Homo sapiens: one gene and its partner. The protein of the gene in region 1 purifies or fractionates together with the protein of each later gene. This does not show direct contact. Each region holds a gene or a part of one and is shown in the gene's direction. Other genes may lie near its edges. The genes, in order: STK38 and CTDP1.

Evidence for each region.
Region 2: the proteins of STK38 (region 1) and CTDP1 purify together in Homo sapiens (affinity purification with western blotting; 2 studies listed by BioGRID and IntAct, with this or other methods). This does not show direct contact.

The regions. Positions count from the first base shown.
Region 1 is NC_000006.12:36,515,172-36,523,498, reverse strand, and holds part of STK38 (serine/threonine-protein kinase 38), read left to right. Parts: intron 1-1,681; coding exon 1,682-1,765; intron 1,766-5,658; coding exon 5,659-5,782; intron 5,783-8,006; coding exon 8,007-8,161; intron 8,162-8,327. UniProt on the Homo sapiens protein: Serine/threonine-protein kinase that acts as a negative regulator of MAP3K1/2 signaling. Converts MAP3K2 from its phosphorylated form to its non-phosphorylated form and inhibits autophosphorylation of MAP3K2.
Region 2 is NC_000018.10:79,702,476-79,710,802, forward strand, and holds part of CTDP1 (RNA polymerase II subunit A C-terminal domain phosphatase), read left to right. Parts: intron 1-2,291; coding exon 2,292-2,442; intron 2,443-7,870; coding exon 7,871-7,961; intron 7,962-8,327. UniProt on the Homo sapiens protein: Processively dephosphorylates 'Ser-2' and 'Ser-5' of the heptad repeats YSPTSPS in the C-terminal domain of the largest RNA polymerase II subunit. This promotes the activity of RNA polymerase II.

The DNA.
Region 1 (8,327 bases):
CACAAGGTCAGGAGTTCGAGACCAGCCTGACAACATGGTGAAACCTTGTCTCTACTAAAAATAGAAAAATTAGCCGGGTGTGGTGGCACGTGCCTGTAATCCCAGCTACTCAGGAGGCTGAGGCAGGAGAATTGCTTGAACCCAGGAGGCAGAGGTTGCAGTGAGCCGAGATTGCACCATTGCACTCCAGCCTGGGTGACAGAGCAAGACTCCATCTCAAAAAAAAAAAAAAACAAAAAACCTGGTACCCCGGGGAAATGTGAATAGTATTCAGAGGCACAGGTGATAGATTGATCCCTCAGTGTTCAGAATTCCTATTGGCTTCTTGAAAGAGGGAAAAGTATAGTACCACCTCTGAAAGAGCTTTCTGTTTGGCAAGGAAGGGTTGTGGTACTCAATTAGGAAAAACATGAAGAAAGGTTCAGGGAGAAGAAAACCTACTTATTTTGGGAGAAGAGGGGAGGACATGCAGGAACTTGCAGTGAAATTTTTCTTTTGGTTGTAAATTTTCTTCATAAAATTATCTGTTTTCTTTAAGAACATTGGAAAACATAAAAGAGAAGGAAAACTACATAAAACACAATTTCCCTAATTACACATTTTGAATTTTCTTCTTCTTCTTTTTTTTTTTTTTTTTTTTTTTGAGACAGAGTCTTGCTCTGTTGCCCAGGCTGGAGTGCAATGGCTTGATCTTGGCTCACTGCAACCTCCGCCTCTCGGGTTCAAGTGATTCTACTGCCTTAGCCTCCCGAATAACTGGGATTACAGGCACCTGCCACCACACCCAGCTAATTTTCGTATTTTTAGTAGACGGGGTTTCACCAGGTTGGCCAGGCTGGTCTCGAACTCCTGGACCTCAGGTGATCCACCTGCTTCGGCCTTCCAAAGTGCTGAGATTATAGGTGTGAGCTACCGCGCCTGGCCTGAATTTTTTGTTTTTCTTTCCAGACGTTTTTCCTAAGCATGAAGTTTTACTTTGTTATTATTATTATGATTAAGTGACAAGGTTTCACTGTGTTGCCCAGGCTGGAGTGCAGTGGCTGTTTACAGGCACGATCTCACTACTGATTGGCATGGGAGTTTTGACCTGCTCCATTTCTGAACTGGGCCTGTTTGCCCTTCCTTAGGCAACCTGGTGGGCCCCCCCTCTGCCACCCTGCTCCTGGGAGGTCACCATATTATGCTGAACTTAGTTCAGACACCTGATCAGCATAATGCACCATAGCTCATAACTCCTGAGCTCAAGCGATCCTCCTACCTCAACCTCCCAAATAGCTGGGACTACAGGTATACACCACCATGCACAGCTACTTTTGTTTTAATTAAACATCATTGTAATCATTTACTTAGATTTTCTGAGCTGACTGGATGACATGTGTCAGAGGTGTAACGAGTCCTTAAATTTGAAATTGAAGGTTTTAAATTAGATTGGCTTGTTCAACTAAGGAACCAAAGCTGTTCAGATGTAGAGGTATTTGAGGATGTTTCCAGCATCGACTTTACTGTGTGTAATGTATTCATTTTGGAACACTGAAAAGCATTTTCTTCTGCTTTGTTATTACTAGTTGCTCATGTTAAAATTGTAATACTTTTTCAGTTAATTATTGCATCCTATAACACATGAAAGCATTAGGTTGGTAGTACGAGTTTTTGACTTGGCATTTCTTTTATAACTTTTTAGGTACGGCTTGTTCAGAAGAAAGATACGGGACATGTGTATGCAATGAAAATACTCCGTAAAGCAGATATGCTTGAAAAAGAGCAGGTAAAGCACAGTTGTAGCAGTGCTTTTAGCTTATTAATTTTTGTCTCCTAAAACTTTTCTTTTTGTTTAATTGAAATATATATTTTTATTACAGTTTTCTTTAGCTCTGTCATGTATGACTATATATATAATACTACCTTTTTCCCCCTACAAAGAAGCAGTTCATATTTAAAATCACAAATAATGCCTGTAGGTTATATGCAATCTTTTAAAAATTGAAAATCTGTTCCAAAAGCAGCTCTTACTTGTGTCTTCCAATTGATCACAAGATGTCCTTATTGTGAGAGCCTTTTTTTTTTGAGGTCGTACGTGGTGTGGTAGTGTGTTTCTTACCAAATGCTGAGAAATAGAAATTGTATATATATCTCATAACTAAGGACTAGGAATTAGAATTTGGAATTTATAATCTAAAATGTGTCTTTATATGCTTCATTCTGTTTACCTAAACCAAAGTTGAGTCTTCTAGGTAGCTCATCGGTACCTGAAAAAGACCAGCCTTCTAATTTCTGAATGAATTTGAAAAATACAATGCAAATGACAGAACAATGCAAATTCTCCTTTAATGATAAAGGATACTTTCTAAAACCAAAACCTGGTTTGCAAATCAATTTATAAAGTGCCTTATGCAAAATAAATAAGGTTTTAAATATTGGAAAGTATATTTTAAAAAGCAAGAATAGACTTTCTATAAATCTAGTTTAATGTAGCTGGTTGCTTAAGAAAAGATTGCAGTGGGTGATGACCGCAAATGTCCTGTAAAAGATTTGATGTTATAGGAACATGGAGACCCTGTGACAAGGAGAACTCCTAATTTAGGGCCAAAGAGGGGGGATGGAGATTGGCCCCACATCCAATCCTTTCTACCTCTTGAGAGGAGATATAATCACTGGTCTTCCCTGTCTTCATTTAAATGCCACCCCAAAATTTGGAATTTTTATTTTCTCTCAAATTTTCATGTGTTACCGAGAAGCTTTAGACTCCCAGGAATTTCAGTTGGGAGTATCAAATACCTGGGCGGTAAGTCTTGAGACACTATAGTTTATGCTAACGCCAACCTTTTTCAAAATTCATAGTAGGCCGGCCTACTTACATACTATCTACAAATTAGTGTGTGGTATGGGTGTGTAGGCACTGAAAAAGTTTCAGTTAATCTTGAGAAGGAAAATATAAAGCTTCTGCATTAATTAGTATGTTTGCATCTCATGAGTAAGTTTTGTTTTTGCAAGGTATGTTTCCTACAGTTTTAACCAAGGCTTAAGACCTCTTTTTATTAAATATTAACTGTCAGAGTAATACTGCAAAACAAAGTACATATGATTTTCAGTTAGTAATTTTATGTATACCAGGTGCCCCGCATGGTTTCTAACAGAGGATGATCCAGACATAATGTGTAAAAAGCCTTTTCGCAAATATTGTGCCTTCAAAATCACTTTCTAAAACTTTCCTAAATGAAAGTAAAGAAACTATTAGAATTAACATTTTAAATGATGCATTAACTTATGGATTAAATGGTACATTAACTTAAATTGTTTAGCTCACCTTAGCTGAGAACTCAACTCCTCAACTTAACAGATCTCATTATGAGCCAGTTAAAGTCTCTGGCCACAGACTCTACCTGGCTTAGCCATCTTGAAGAAGCATGCATTGGTTTTGTGCTAGATAAAAGATGGAAGTAGACCAGTGCAAATTCATCACCATTTTGGGGTAGGGCTGACAAAGTAGAGGTACAGAGGCAAAATTGTTTTTTTGTTTGCTTTTACTAAATAAACTGGGTAGGAATTAAAGCTACCCACTGAGAGTTCAGGTTATTTTTCTGCTCCACGTGGTGGAAATTTTTGCTACCTGGAAAAATTTAAAGGGTAAGACATGACATCTAACTAGCTTCTGATGTTTCTCTTCCAGTGCAAAAGGAAAACCTTCAGTTGTGATGCCAGTATACAGTTATTGATGGGACAAAAAACTGGCTTTTATTTCTGCTTTCTTAGGGCACAGGATAGCAACTAGCACCCCCCACCTTATTAAATATTTATGGAATAGGGGAAAGAGAACCTTTTTGTATAAATTGCACCTCAGACTCTTCCCTCCCTTAATCTATATTCAGCCAACTCCACTTTCAAACCATGAGGTTTCTTGCTACTGTTTCAGCCTCAAGAGAAAGGCAAGGTGTGCTCATGGTAGCTTTCCCCTTGACAAACAGGAAATGTTATGGGCACCATTGTGTCCTCCAGGGTGAGTGACAAGTGGTAATTGTAGTGCCTCTCCTTTTCTCTGGCTCCCTGCAGTAGGTAGGGAGCTTAATGGGAGCCAGGGGAGACAGGCAGATGAAGGCTGCCTTCTACTGTATTAATGTCTTGTAGTGACTGGGTCCTAGCCATGGCTGTGGGGCAGCAAGCAATGTTACTGTTTCCCAAAAGCTTTGCTTCTGTATTAAGGTCAAGTAAAGGCAGATGCTTTACTTGGTTTCATTGTGTTTCATAGCACTGTTTCTTTTCACCCTTATTGTCCATTTTTTCCCACCCCAATACCATAAGTACAGATGTAAAGATGTAGGTTTTCTGTACAGTTGCAGCTTTTAAAAAAATTCCCCAAAGAATGATTTTAGTAGATACTGAAAACTCAAATACATAAAGTCAAATGCCTCTGGGCCTCCAAGAGTTAGCATAGAAGCCTGAAGCAAGTTAGATATAAGACCAGGGGAGAGGGTGTTGAAATGGAAGAGTAATGGAAGAGTGCCTTGTCTCCCTAAAGACATGTCAATAAAACAAGCATCATATCAAACATTGTATTAAACCAAACAACAGCCATGGACTAAATTTGCCAACAGCCATGGACTAAATTTGCCAATTTGTGAACCTTGGTACATGTTTTACTTCAGAACATGTTGTAAAAAGTCAAGACCTGTAGCATATGTTAAGACCAAAACCACTATTCAGGGATTGGACTGAGTCTTAATAAATTTAGATCTGAATCAACCCAATTTAGACCTTGTGACACTTAAAAAAGAGGGGAGGGGCCAGGCATGGTGGCACACACCTATAATCCTAGCTACTTAGGAGGCTGAGGCAGGAGGATCACTTTAGACCAGGAGTTTGAGGCTTCAGTGAGCTATGATCACGCCACTGCACTCTAGCCGGAGTGACAGAGCGAGACCCCATCTTGTTTTAAAAAAAGTGTGTGTGGGGGGGATTTGATAATATGCAGTGATGTTTGATTACTGTTCTGCATTTAAAGTAAATAAGGTAAATTTGATAATAAAGCATTGCTTTAACAAAATAATTCCGGTTCTCTGAAACTTTCTACAACTTGGTCCTTTATAGGTATTTCAGTAAAAGTATAAAATTGGAAATGTCATTAATTTGAATCTACAACTTTTCATAGGTGTTCTTGTATTTCAATTCAGTAAGGATTGATTGAGCACATAGCAGTGAACTAAATGCTGTGGTATCATAGCATTCTAGAATTTGTCAGTGAGCTCACTGTTGTTGCAGATACTAGTGCAGACCCGAGGAAGAACTTGGAAGAGAGTCTCACTTTGGGGACTTATTTTTATCATAAAAGATTATTAGACAAAACTCTATGCAAAAGAGTAGTAATTTTAACTAATCAGAGATTCAGTTTATAGCAGTGTTAAAGTTGCTATTTGCATTAAAGCCATTCATTTTGCCATTTTTTAAAGCCTTTCATCACTCAAGTTTTCATCACTGAATACCTTGAAGTCAAATGTTGTCAATTTTGAGTTAGTAGGTTTGCCTAAGCAGAAATTGGATCTTTTATATCATCACGATTAAATACTCAAAACAGTATTTAAGCACAGTATTTAAATTGTTTAAGCAAATATACAATCTAATAAAGCAGAGCAAGCTTTGTCATTAATCAAATGCATATACCTCCAGGTTGGCCACATTCGTGCGGAGCGTGACATTCTAGTGGAGGCAGACAGTTTGTGGGTTGTGAAAATGTTCTATAGTTTTCAGGATAAGCTAAACCTCTACCTAATCATGGAGTTCCTGCCTGGAGGTAATTACTTGACGATGAAAGGTCATTTTTTCTTTTTGTTCTGTGGTTTCTTTCTCTCACATCACGATTAACCCTCCTTTCTACTTTTAAATGTGCTCACAAAGTTGCTTTCTATATCCTTTTTTAGGTCTATAAAGGAAGTCAGTAACCTGTCTTGTGCTGGGGTGCCTTTCTACAATCTTAGTACCATAAAAGTAACCTGTTAATTCATTTACATGATTTCAGATGGACATTTCTTTCTTTTCTTCTTCTTTTTAAAATATATAGGAATAAATTAGGGTGCTCTGCCTGCTCTCCTGTCAATGGGAATCATATATGATCAATAACCCAAGTGACAACATTGAAGCTATAACATCCTTTGCTCCAAATTTTTGTTTCTTTTTGTATAACATATTAATAAGGAGTGAATTTTTTGTTACCCATATTAGTAGCCAGAAAAAATTTCTCATTTCTGAAATTTTAAGTTTTATGTAACTCAGCATGAGCATCTCCTAAGACAGCTCCAAAGTAAACCCAGAACAGAACATGCCATCTGTTCTGAGGAAAGCAGTCTGTTTGTCAGTGAGCAGATGAACTCTGAGCAAACTCTGGTGGGAAAAAAAAAGAGAGAGAACTTTTTTCTTTTTTGTTCCTATAATTGTGGCATAATATTTTGATTTTGTGACAACCCTTAGATTTAGGGTCATCAATACTTTTTAATAAAGAAACACATTTAATAAAAAATAAACAGTTGATTAATGTTAGAAAAGAGTCTGGTAGAATGAGGAGAAACTTTTTTAACATTTAGATGCTAGTTCTTAAATAAGAGTAAGAGCCAACTTGGTTACCAGCTCCTAACGTGTCCTCAAGCCTCAACCTGTACCATCTTCCGTAGCTTCTCATGTCTCCTGGACCCTGCCCTTTGCACTTGGTGGAGCTGGCCTGCAGAGCCATAGAGCATCTGGCCTGAGCTCTCCAATCATCTGGGCAAACTTGCACAGGCGAGGCCCCATTGACTGCTCTCCTGAGCCACAGAACTAAGGCCGTATAGCTACCTTACTGGGGTAGCAGCCCAAGTGCACTGTCTCCATGTGTCTGGTGGGTCTCCAGATTGAAGGGCTGCCAGGAGTGATTAGGAAATCATATTTTTTAAGTATTGGACTGAAAAAGAGCACTTTAATAAATGGTTTAATTTTTGCCTGAGGGAAAAATAGCTACTTTTCTCCAATAATACAAAACATAATGTTCTAAATGAAATGAAACTGAAAAAGCAGCATGATGCTCTGTTAAAATCAGAGGTTTCTTTCTCTTTTCCTTGTTTTCTAACATAAGTGACTTTATGTGAGGTCTAAACTGAATCTTTACTGTTTCTCTTAGTTTTAAACTCCTTATACATATTTTCTTTGCATTTCTCACTGTTGAGTTAGGACCTGAATCTTTTTCTGCCATTTTATGTTGCTGGTATTAGAAATGATGAAATTTTGACTTTGCAGAAAACTAACGAGGTTACCTTTTAACTGCTAGAATACTGATACTGTGTTTTAAAAGTTACATAAAGGGTACTAGTGTCCATTTAAATACCTATAATAACGCACTAGAGAAAAAAAAGCACTGACCTTGAGAGGTGTTCATTGTACTCTTCCAGGAGGCAGTTATTGCACATTCTAGTGTATAGCATTTTCAGTTCATTTTTAGCTTTTGTTGACTAATGCTTTGCTACCCAAGTCCTTCCTTTTTATTTGTTTGTGTTCTGTGAATAGAAGTTGGAAAGCTTGTTTTCAGCCTGCCCGAGTGTTTACATTTTTATTTGGCATTTCAGCCTCTCTATAACAATACATAGATTGTATGTGGAAGTGCCATTTAGTTACAGATGCAGAAAAGCTTGCAGATACTTGTTCAGGCAAAGTGAAAAGTAAAGTAGCATTTTACCCCGAGTCCAAAAAATTATCCTAAGCAAATACAGTTGTTTTTTAAAGTGTGGGAGAAATTTTCTTTTTCTCTCAAAAGTAAAATAGAAATCACAGCTTAGTGGTCAACCTTAGCTAGCTTAGGTGTGAAAATCCCATTTCTTCCCATGTTGGCCATGTGGGTCTATCTCTGGCACACAGAAGAGGTCTGTTTAGCCGCCTTATTTTGGCAGATAGGGAAGACATATCTGAAAATTGGTACTCACTCGTATGTTGTGTGTGTGTGTGTGTGTGTGTGTGTGTGTGTGTGTGGTGGCTTTGTATCTTCTTGTTTCCAGGGGACATGATGACCTTGTTGATGAAAAAAGACACTCTGACAGAAGAGGAGACTCAGTTTTATATAGCAGAAACAGTATTAGCCATAGACTCTATTCACCAACTTGGATTCATCCACAGAGACATCAAACCAGACAACCTTCTTTTGGACAGCAAGGTATTGGGGGGGCATTGGCATGAACTATGCACGTTTACTGATCTGAGCAGCCTCTGCTTTAACACCTGCACCCCTGTGGTCATCCCAGTGGGCGAGCTGTGACCTGCCTTGTCATGATTTTCCTTTTTTTTTTAAACAGGTAAGTTTGCTGTCACTTCCTTTCTCT
Region 2 (8,327 bases), on another chromosome or scaffold:
CCATTCTTGTGCCTCAGCCTCCCGAGTAGCTGGGACTACAGGCGTGTACCACCACACCCAGTTAATTTTTATATTTTTAGTAGAGACGGGGTTGTGCCATATTGGCCAGGCTGGTCTCGAACTCCTGACCTCAAGTGATCCTCCCGCCTCGGCCTCCCAAAGTGTTGGGATTATAGGCATTGAGCCACCACGCCCGGTGATTTTTAATAATAAAGTATTTTTAAATTAAGTTAGGTACATTGTTCTTTTAGATATAATGCTATTGAATGTTTAATAAGCTGCAGTAGAGTGTCAGCATGGATTATATTCACTGGGAAACCAAAAAATTCATGTGATTCTCAGTATCTCCAGGATAGGCCTGCTGAAGACAGTGGAGTCTAGTTATAATGTGGCTGTTTCTCAGTTGTGTGGTCTGGAAGGTGACAGTGTCCTGATGTAGTGGGGAGGGGGGTCTAAGCATGAACGGTCTGTCCTCTGCCTCCTCAGTAGCAGTAGTGTGCCCCACTTGACATCCAGAGGAGACCCTGAGGCTGGTGCCTGGCCCTACTGCTGGCCCCTCTGAAAGCAATTTCAGGGATCAGAAGTGGTGCTGGCCACAGCTCCCGAAGCCTGGACAGCTGCTGGACTTTTTACTGTTGAGTAATGGGAAAGTTGTTACTAGAACTTCTCACTCCTAAATATTTGACAGAGTAGCTTCTTCATGACGGTCGTGACTAACTTAGAGCTAGAAAAATGTAACTGGGAAAGTTGTTACTAGAACTTCTCACTCCTAAACCTTGAACAGAGTAGCTTCTTCATGAGGGTCGTAACTAACTTAGAACTAGAAAAATGTAACTGAGCTTAAGTCATCTACCTTTTTTTAAAGCCATTAAGAGTAAATATTTTACTGAGAAAATAACAGGATTTAAAGGATCGAAGTTTAGCTTCCTAAGGAAAGCAGACTCATTTGCATGTCGATCATATGTAAGCGAGTCGGTGTTGCTCATTTCACTGTCTACTAAATATGACTTAGAATACTTTCAGCTTTTATGTTGTATATGTAGATGAAAGAAACTGTCTGAAAATCACCCATGCGTTATACCAGGTTACCCGGGAATGTTGATTTCCTTTATTCAGTAGCTCAGGAAAACACTGTCAGCACGTGATGTTGGTGGAGGTCTGTTCCGAGCAGCTGCGGTGGCCTTGCTGTGTAACACGTATCAGCGAGGAAACAAAGGCAGAAGTGACATCAGTGGTTAGCTCATAGTTAGTGTAGGTTGTTACTGTTGGCGTGGTTATCAGGGGTGGTTATGTCCTAGGCGGTCGTTGCAGGTAGGTAGTTACCAGGAGTAGTTAGTGTAGCTATCATCGGTGGTTATGTAGTTATCATAGGTGGTGACTGTTGGCGTGGTTATTGGGGATGGTTATCGTGTAGTTATCACAGGCTGTTACTCTTGGCTGGTTATCGGGGGTGGTTATCCTAGGCGGGTCGTTGCAGGCAGGTAGCTATTGTGAGTAGTTAGTGTAGCTGTCATCGGTGGTTATCATGTAGTTACCGTAGGCTGTTACTGTTAACGTGGTACCCAGGGTGGTTATCTTGAACAGTTGTTGCAGGTAGGTGGTTATCCTAGTTACCACGGGCAGTCAGTATTCACACTCACTGAGGGCATTCCCGCAGCAGAGAAGGCCGCACTCACTCACTCGTACCGCGTGCATGGAAACTACTTACACAGTGGGTTTTAAATGCCACGGGTAGCCCCTTGCACCAGTTAGGGTCACGTCCTTATTTGGAGGGTCAGGCGGACATGCGTCCTCTGTCCCACGTGGAGAGGTGTGTGCACACTCCTATCCCCTGTCCCATGTGGAGGGGCGGGTGCAAACGCATCCTCTGTCCCACGTGGAGTGGTGTGTCCACACGCATGTCCTCTGTCCCATGCCCACGTGGAGGGGCGTGTACACACGCATGTCCTCTGTCCCGTGTGGAGGGGCGTGTACACGCACACGTGTCCTCTGTCCCGTGTGGAGGGGCGTGTACATGCTCACATGTGTCCTCTGTCCCGTGTGGAGGGGCGTGTACATGCAAACGTGTATCCTCTGTCCCATGTGGAGGGATGGGCACATGTGTGTCTTCAGGACGCCTGTCTCAGGCACCCGTGTGTCTTCAGGACGCCTGTCGGGCACACGCGTGTCTTCAGAACGCTTGTCTGGGGCACACGTGTGTTCTCAGGATGCCTGTCTCGGGCACACAGGTTGCGGGGGCGGCCGGGGCTCCTCAGGCCTTTTCTCCCGACTGTTGCTACTATTCTTTTTAGGGCATCTTTCACTTCCAGCTGGGCCGGGGTGAGCCCATGCTGCACACGCGCCTGCGTCCACACTGCAAGGACTTCCTGGAGAAGATCGCCAAGCTGTACGAGCTGCACGTCTTCACCTTCGGCAGCCGGCTGTACGCACACACCATCGCAGGTCAGTCAAGCCGCAGCCGAAGAGGCCGTGTGAACAGTGGGTTTCTTTCCTGTTTTCGGTGATGGTTTCTTAAAGATGAAGAAAGAAAAGAAGCTCTCCTGCAACTCAGTTGTAGTCTTAGGGTTGGCCGTTGTGCAGGGGGTTGTGAGAGGTAAGGGAATTCTGCCACCAGGGCTGTTGGGTGGGGCCGCGGCTGCTCTGGCCGGGTGCGGTACTGGGTGGGCCGCTTTGGGAGTTTGTCAGGACCACATGGGCACGTGGAAACTTCTGCGAGCGTCCTCCGACAGATACCTTCTTAAATCAGTTCACAGGGACTTTGGGCCGGGCTGCTTGTGTGTGCTCTTGCTGGGTGCTGTCACTGCACACAGCATGATTGTCCCCTGCCTACACATGGGTACCCTTAGGGTTTAGCGTTTGCTTCTGTCTCCCTGGGTGATAGCGTGAATGCCAGGCTACGGTGCCCTCTGGGAGGCAGCACCAGCAGGACGAATCGAGGGGACAGTGCCACGGGACGGTGACTGTCCCATGTGGATGCAGTGAGGGGACGCCACAGGATGGTGACCGTCTGTCCTTCATGGACAAAGCGAGGGGACAAAGTGGGACAGCGACCGTCTGTTCCACGTGGACGAAGCAACGTCTGTCCCACGTGGACGAAGCAAGGGGACAGTGCGGGACGGCGACCGTCTGTCCCACGTGGACAAAGCGAGGGGGCTGCCACGGGACGGCGACCGTCTGTCCCACATGGATGTAGGCGCCGAGTGGCAGTGTAGGCAAGCTCCTCCGTACTGGCTCCAGAGGTTGTTAGACTGAGCATTTTAAAATTCAAAGGTCTTTCTAGATTGGTCTTAGTCTTTTGTTGTTGTTGGGGAAATGAATTTTGAATCCTCCTTTAATATTTAGTGCCTTTATAGGAAATTGTGATCATGACCTTTAATTCCTCTTGTAATTGAAATTTGAAATATTCACCTGTAACATTATGGCTGCTGCTGCATAGCTGCCTGAGACAGATGATGTGAAGACGAGTAATTATGCACAAGGGTGATATTGCTCACTTCCTCGGGCCAGTGAAGAAATAATGCCTGCTATGATCTGAGGGTTTTACAGCCCCCAAGTCCATGTGTTAAAACCCAGTCCCAGGGCGAGGGTGTTAGGAGGGGCGTGGGAGGTGGTGAGGTCCTGTGGACTCCATCCTCGTGAATGGAATCAGGGCCCTTACCCAGGTGGGCCCTGGGAGCTGCGGGAAATGCAGCAAGCCGGCGCCCACTGACCTGCAGCCAAGTTGCTGGCGCCGTGGTCGGACGCCGGCCTCCAGAACTGTGAGGAAGGGACGTGTGTTCCTGAGTCACCCACACTATGGAGTTTCTTTAGAGCAGCCCAGGCCGACTAAGCTGCCCACTGTGTGGAAATAGACCCCCAAATCCCCATGTGTTCCAGCCCCAGATTGTGCCGTTGCAGCCAGTGCCAGGCACCTCCCAGAGGACAACCCATAAGTCACACAAACCGCAGGGACAGTGACGCCCACTCAAACCAGACAACTGAGCGGGGCATCACTCTCACAATAACAAATGTCAGGGAAAGACTAAAAACCAGAAAATTATTCCTCACGCTCATCATATCCATGGCTGTCCCCTATTCTCTGGTTTTTTTTTTGTATGTATAATTTTGCCTAGTTTGTCTTAATATATGTACAAGTTTACATACCGTTCTTTTCACATAAGATTTCATCACTAAGAATTTATCCATCACGTTGTTATAAATCTTCATCATTTTATGTAAGATTTTTTTCCCTCCTCTGTGGACTGGATCCTCTGGGTGAGTTCCTAAAACCAGGATTGTTCGGTGAGGGAGTGGTTCCTGACCCCCAGGACTGTGAGGACTGCACGCCGCATGGCCTGCTCCCTGGGAGGGTGACGGGTTTGCCTCCCGCCTCCCACACAAGGCGCACACCAGCGGGCACAGCCCGGTGACCTGCACGTCTGAGTCCAGGATGCCAGTGATGTTTCTTCTCCTCCTGTCCCGTCTTCCATACGTTGATCTGGTGCCCGTGCAAGTGTTTCTCATTTCGGATTTCCTTCTCCAGGTCTCTCTCTGAAGCTGGGCTTCTTTAGGTTCGCTGTTTCACACGTCTTGCTTATCCTTTCCTGAGGTGCATCGATGTTTGCTGGTCAGAGCACACAAGCCCCAGTGAGGAGGAGCATGTGGAAGGCTCGGATCTGTTTAAATGCTTGGCTGGAGGGGTTTGGGCTAAAAGCAGAGGGTCCCAGGTTTTAGCCGGGCTACACCCTTGCCACCCGTCACACCAGCAGGCAGGGTATGGGTCACCACAGTCTGATTCCACGTTCATGAGGCCTCGTGTGGTGAGAGATGAAGCAGGTGACGAGAACGCCATGTTTCTTTATCAGCCTGAAAGCTGGAGGGAGCCTGGGAGCTGCTCGCAGATTCAGCAGAGCATCCATGCAGACATCCGCAGGCCTCTGAGCCGCTTAGACAGCAGAGCAGGGAGCCTGCTGGTGGGCGCTTGGCTGCGGAGAGCCTCGAGCGCGGGTCCTCCTGCAGTGAGACCAGCTAGGTTTGTTGAGCGTCACCGGGCCGTCTGGTGCCTTCTCCGTTTCAAGCTCTGCTTTCTATGCTAAAGTTCCAGCATTCCAACGTGTCCAAGGGATGTCGGCCAAAACCAGACGAAGACATCACAAGAAAACTGCAGACCAGTATCCCTTTGAACATGGATGCAGAAATTCTCAACAGAACATGGGCCCTCGAGCCCAGCAACGCAGGAGGAAGACTGTGTCCAGGCTGTGGTTCAGGAAGGCCGAGCTTTGCTTCATTGTGGCTGGCGGGATCTGTAGAGATGACCTGGGTCAGCTTTTCTACAAGTGAGAAAGTGAGGTCCGGACTGAAGCCTGAGGTGGTCGCCGAGCATCTGCTTTTGATGCTTTTCATTTTGAAAGTGACCGTGTTGATAGCATGCGTGCTTTCAGTATGACTAGGACAGAGATGTTAAGAGTTTGCGATGCGTGTCTTTTATCTGATAGTAGAGACGCTAATAATTCTATTAACAGACTTTAGATCTAGCGACTTCATGGCCTCAGTGATCATCTGGAATTTACGCATAGTGAGAAACAATCGCATTTATTTCTCCTTTAAGCCCAAGTATCTTTTGGTTAATGAAATACTAACAAACCAGTGGTATCAGGGAACGGAAAGCTCCTGGCAGTACTGCATTTGAAACGTCTGGAGGTGGTGATGCTTCAGCCAGGAAGCAGGTTCATCTTCCCAGAAGATCTTACGGATCCCACAGTGCATTGTGCATAGTGCCGTGGGGCTGCAGGGTAACTGAGGTGGTGCACAGAGCAGCTCTTCTGTTTTAATTGTAATGTGTATGTTTTAACCTGTATCAAAAACAGCAAATGTGTTTCTCGCATTTGTGATCTCAGAGGTGGTGGTGCAGAGGTTGAGCCCAGTAGGGATGGGTGCAGGGAGTAGTTGATTAAAAGCCAGCGTGAAAACAATAGTGATTATGTGGAGTGCAGTCAGGGCACGTTCAGATCCGGAAGTGGACCCCGTGTGCCACGTGGGGACGTGGAGCCAGGCGTTCCGGGGTGCATTCGGATCCGGAAGTGGACCCCGTGTGCCATGCAGAGGCGTGGAGCCAGGCGTTCCAGTGAGACTTAAGTCTTGAGAGAATGTGGGCTGCGTGGTTGGACTTTGGGTTCACAGTGCTTTTGAGATGTCTCATCTACCTCCTTTGCTTCATGCATAACTAACGGTTATGCAGGGGACCTGCGTGCCATGACAAGACCACAGTCCCAGCTCCCGACTCTGGACCGGCTCACTCTTGTGCAATCCAGTCCCCGTTTTGTTCCACGGCACCTGCACGTGTCAGGCCAGATAGAGGTTGTGTGTTAATGTGTTCAATTTTCTTACAATTTCAGCCTCTTGGGAGAGTAATAATTATGTTGTATTCATTCCCGCACCTTATATTCCTAGCAAAATTCCAAGTAATGTTAAACTCAGTAAATGTTAAATGATCGAATACCCTTAAACACGTTATGTGGGTGCCATGGAATACCTATCTCTTGAGGTATGTGCAGATTTATGGCTTCAGCCACTTGTATGATGAGTAGCTGAAACATTTCTTTTTGAGGCTTCATAATTAACCGTAGCTTTTTCTCTCCAGAATGTTTTAAATGGCTGGTGAAATTAAATTGACATTGAACTTGATGCCTCCAACATATTTTACCAATGGAATAAATTACCTGAAAGGTTGTTTTGTTTTTGTTTAGTACCCCTACTTCTACAAACTGAAATATGTTTCCTATATACTCTGTGGTTCTTGTAAACTAACAAGAGATAACTTATTTTTAAATTATCTTTATTTAAAAATATGAGCACTTTACTGTAAATTGAAGACTTTGCAAACTTAGGAAGATAACACAGTAGGCTTAAAGTTCAGAAGATAAATTTATAGATCAAGAAACCCAGAGCAGAGGTGATCCCAAGAAACCTCTGCCTGATTTGTTGATTTTCACAGTGGTGCTTCCTGAAGTGTAGAAGGGATGTTTGCAGATAGCTTGGTTTTACTATCTTTAAGGAGTCGAAGCTGAGCATCAAGCATGTGAAGCTCTTTAGAAAATTACTGTTAAAAAGTTAAACTAGACTTGTAATTAACGGATGTCATGTGAAGTGCAAGTGTCAAATGTAGCCTAAGCGGATTCTTCGCTGTGGAAGCACCTTCTGCACTAGCTGGTCAAGGTGGTGTCCCGGATGTCCTTCCTTCCCAGTCTCCTCTGTCAGGCAGGCTTCCTCGATGTTGCCTAAATTACCATTATTAAAACGTGTATAATAGTTAGAAATAACCGGCCTTTCTGTGTATTTCTACAACACAGAGTGTGAGTTTGTATAATTCTACTAAAGTAACTTGGGAGAAGCAAACTTCCTTGATAACCTTTCCTCCACTAACCATTACAGATGAGAGCAGTGGGCCACCCGCCTGGGGTTAGGAAAGATCATATCCGAGGTGACGCAGAGTAATTTCAGCTTAGTGTCCAGACTCCATCACGTGAAGAACCACATGCAGAGTGTTTTGAGATCAAATGATGACTTACCTGTTTTACTTATGCAAGTGCCTTCCATAATTTTCATATCCATCTGGTTTAGATAGGCACTTCAGTAAGATATTACAAATTTTTCATGTTAGTAGAATTATAAACACTTATCAACATGGTTTGTGTTTGAGAAATAAGTTCACCATAAGAGAAAAGAAGCCCCACACGAGCCACGTCTTACCTCAAAAGGGATGAAGTGTTTGGTGCCAGTTCATCATGTTGTGTGTCTGCCACTTTAAAAAAAACATTCAAGGCTTCACCATGTGCCGTGTGACCGAAACGTGTCTCAGGTATGTAATCTTTGTCCTGTTTTCTTTTCCAAGGCTTTTTAGACCCCGAGAAGAAGCTTTTTTCTCACCGAATATTATCAAGGGATGAATGTATTGACCCATTTTCTAAAACGGGAAACCTTAGGTATGTACCCAGCCGCGCTCCTCACAAAGACCTCGCTGTTCATTTCCCATTTCAAAAATCGCATCTTGAAATTTAGAGCAGTATTTCTTTTTTTCTTTTTTTTTGAGACGGAGTCTTGCTGTTGCCCAGGCTAGAGTGCAGTGGCGCGATCTCGGCTCACTGCAAGCTCTGCTTCCAGAGTTCACGCCATTCTCCTGCCTCAGCCTCCTGAGTAGCTAGGACTACAGGCACCCACCACCTCGCCCGGCAATTTTTTTTTTTTTTTTTTTTTTTTTTTTTTTTGTATTTTTAGTACAGACGGTGGTTTCACTGTGTTAGCCAGGATGGCCTCGATCTCCTGACCTCGTGATCTTCCCGCCTCAGCCT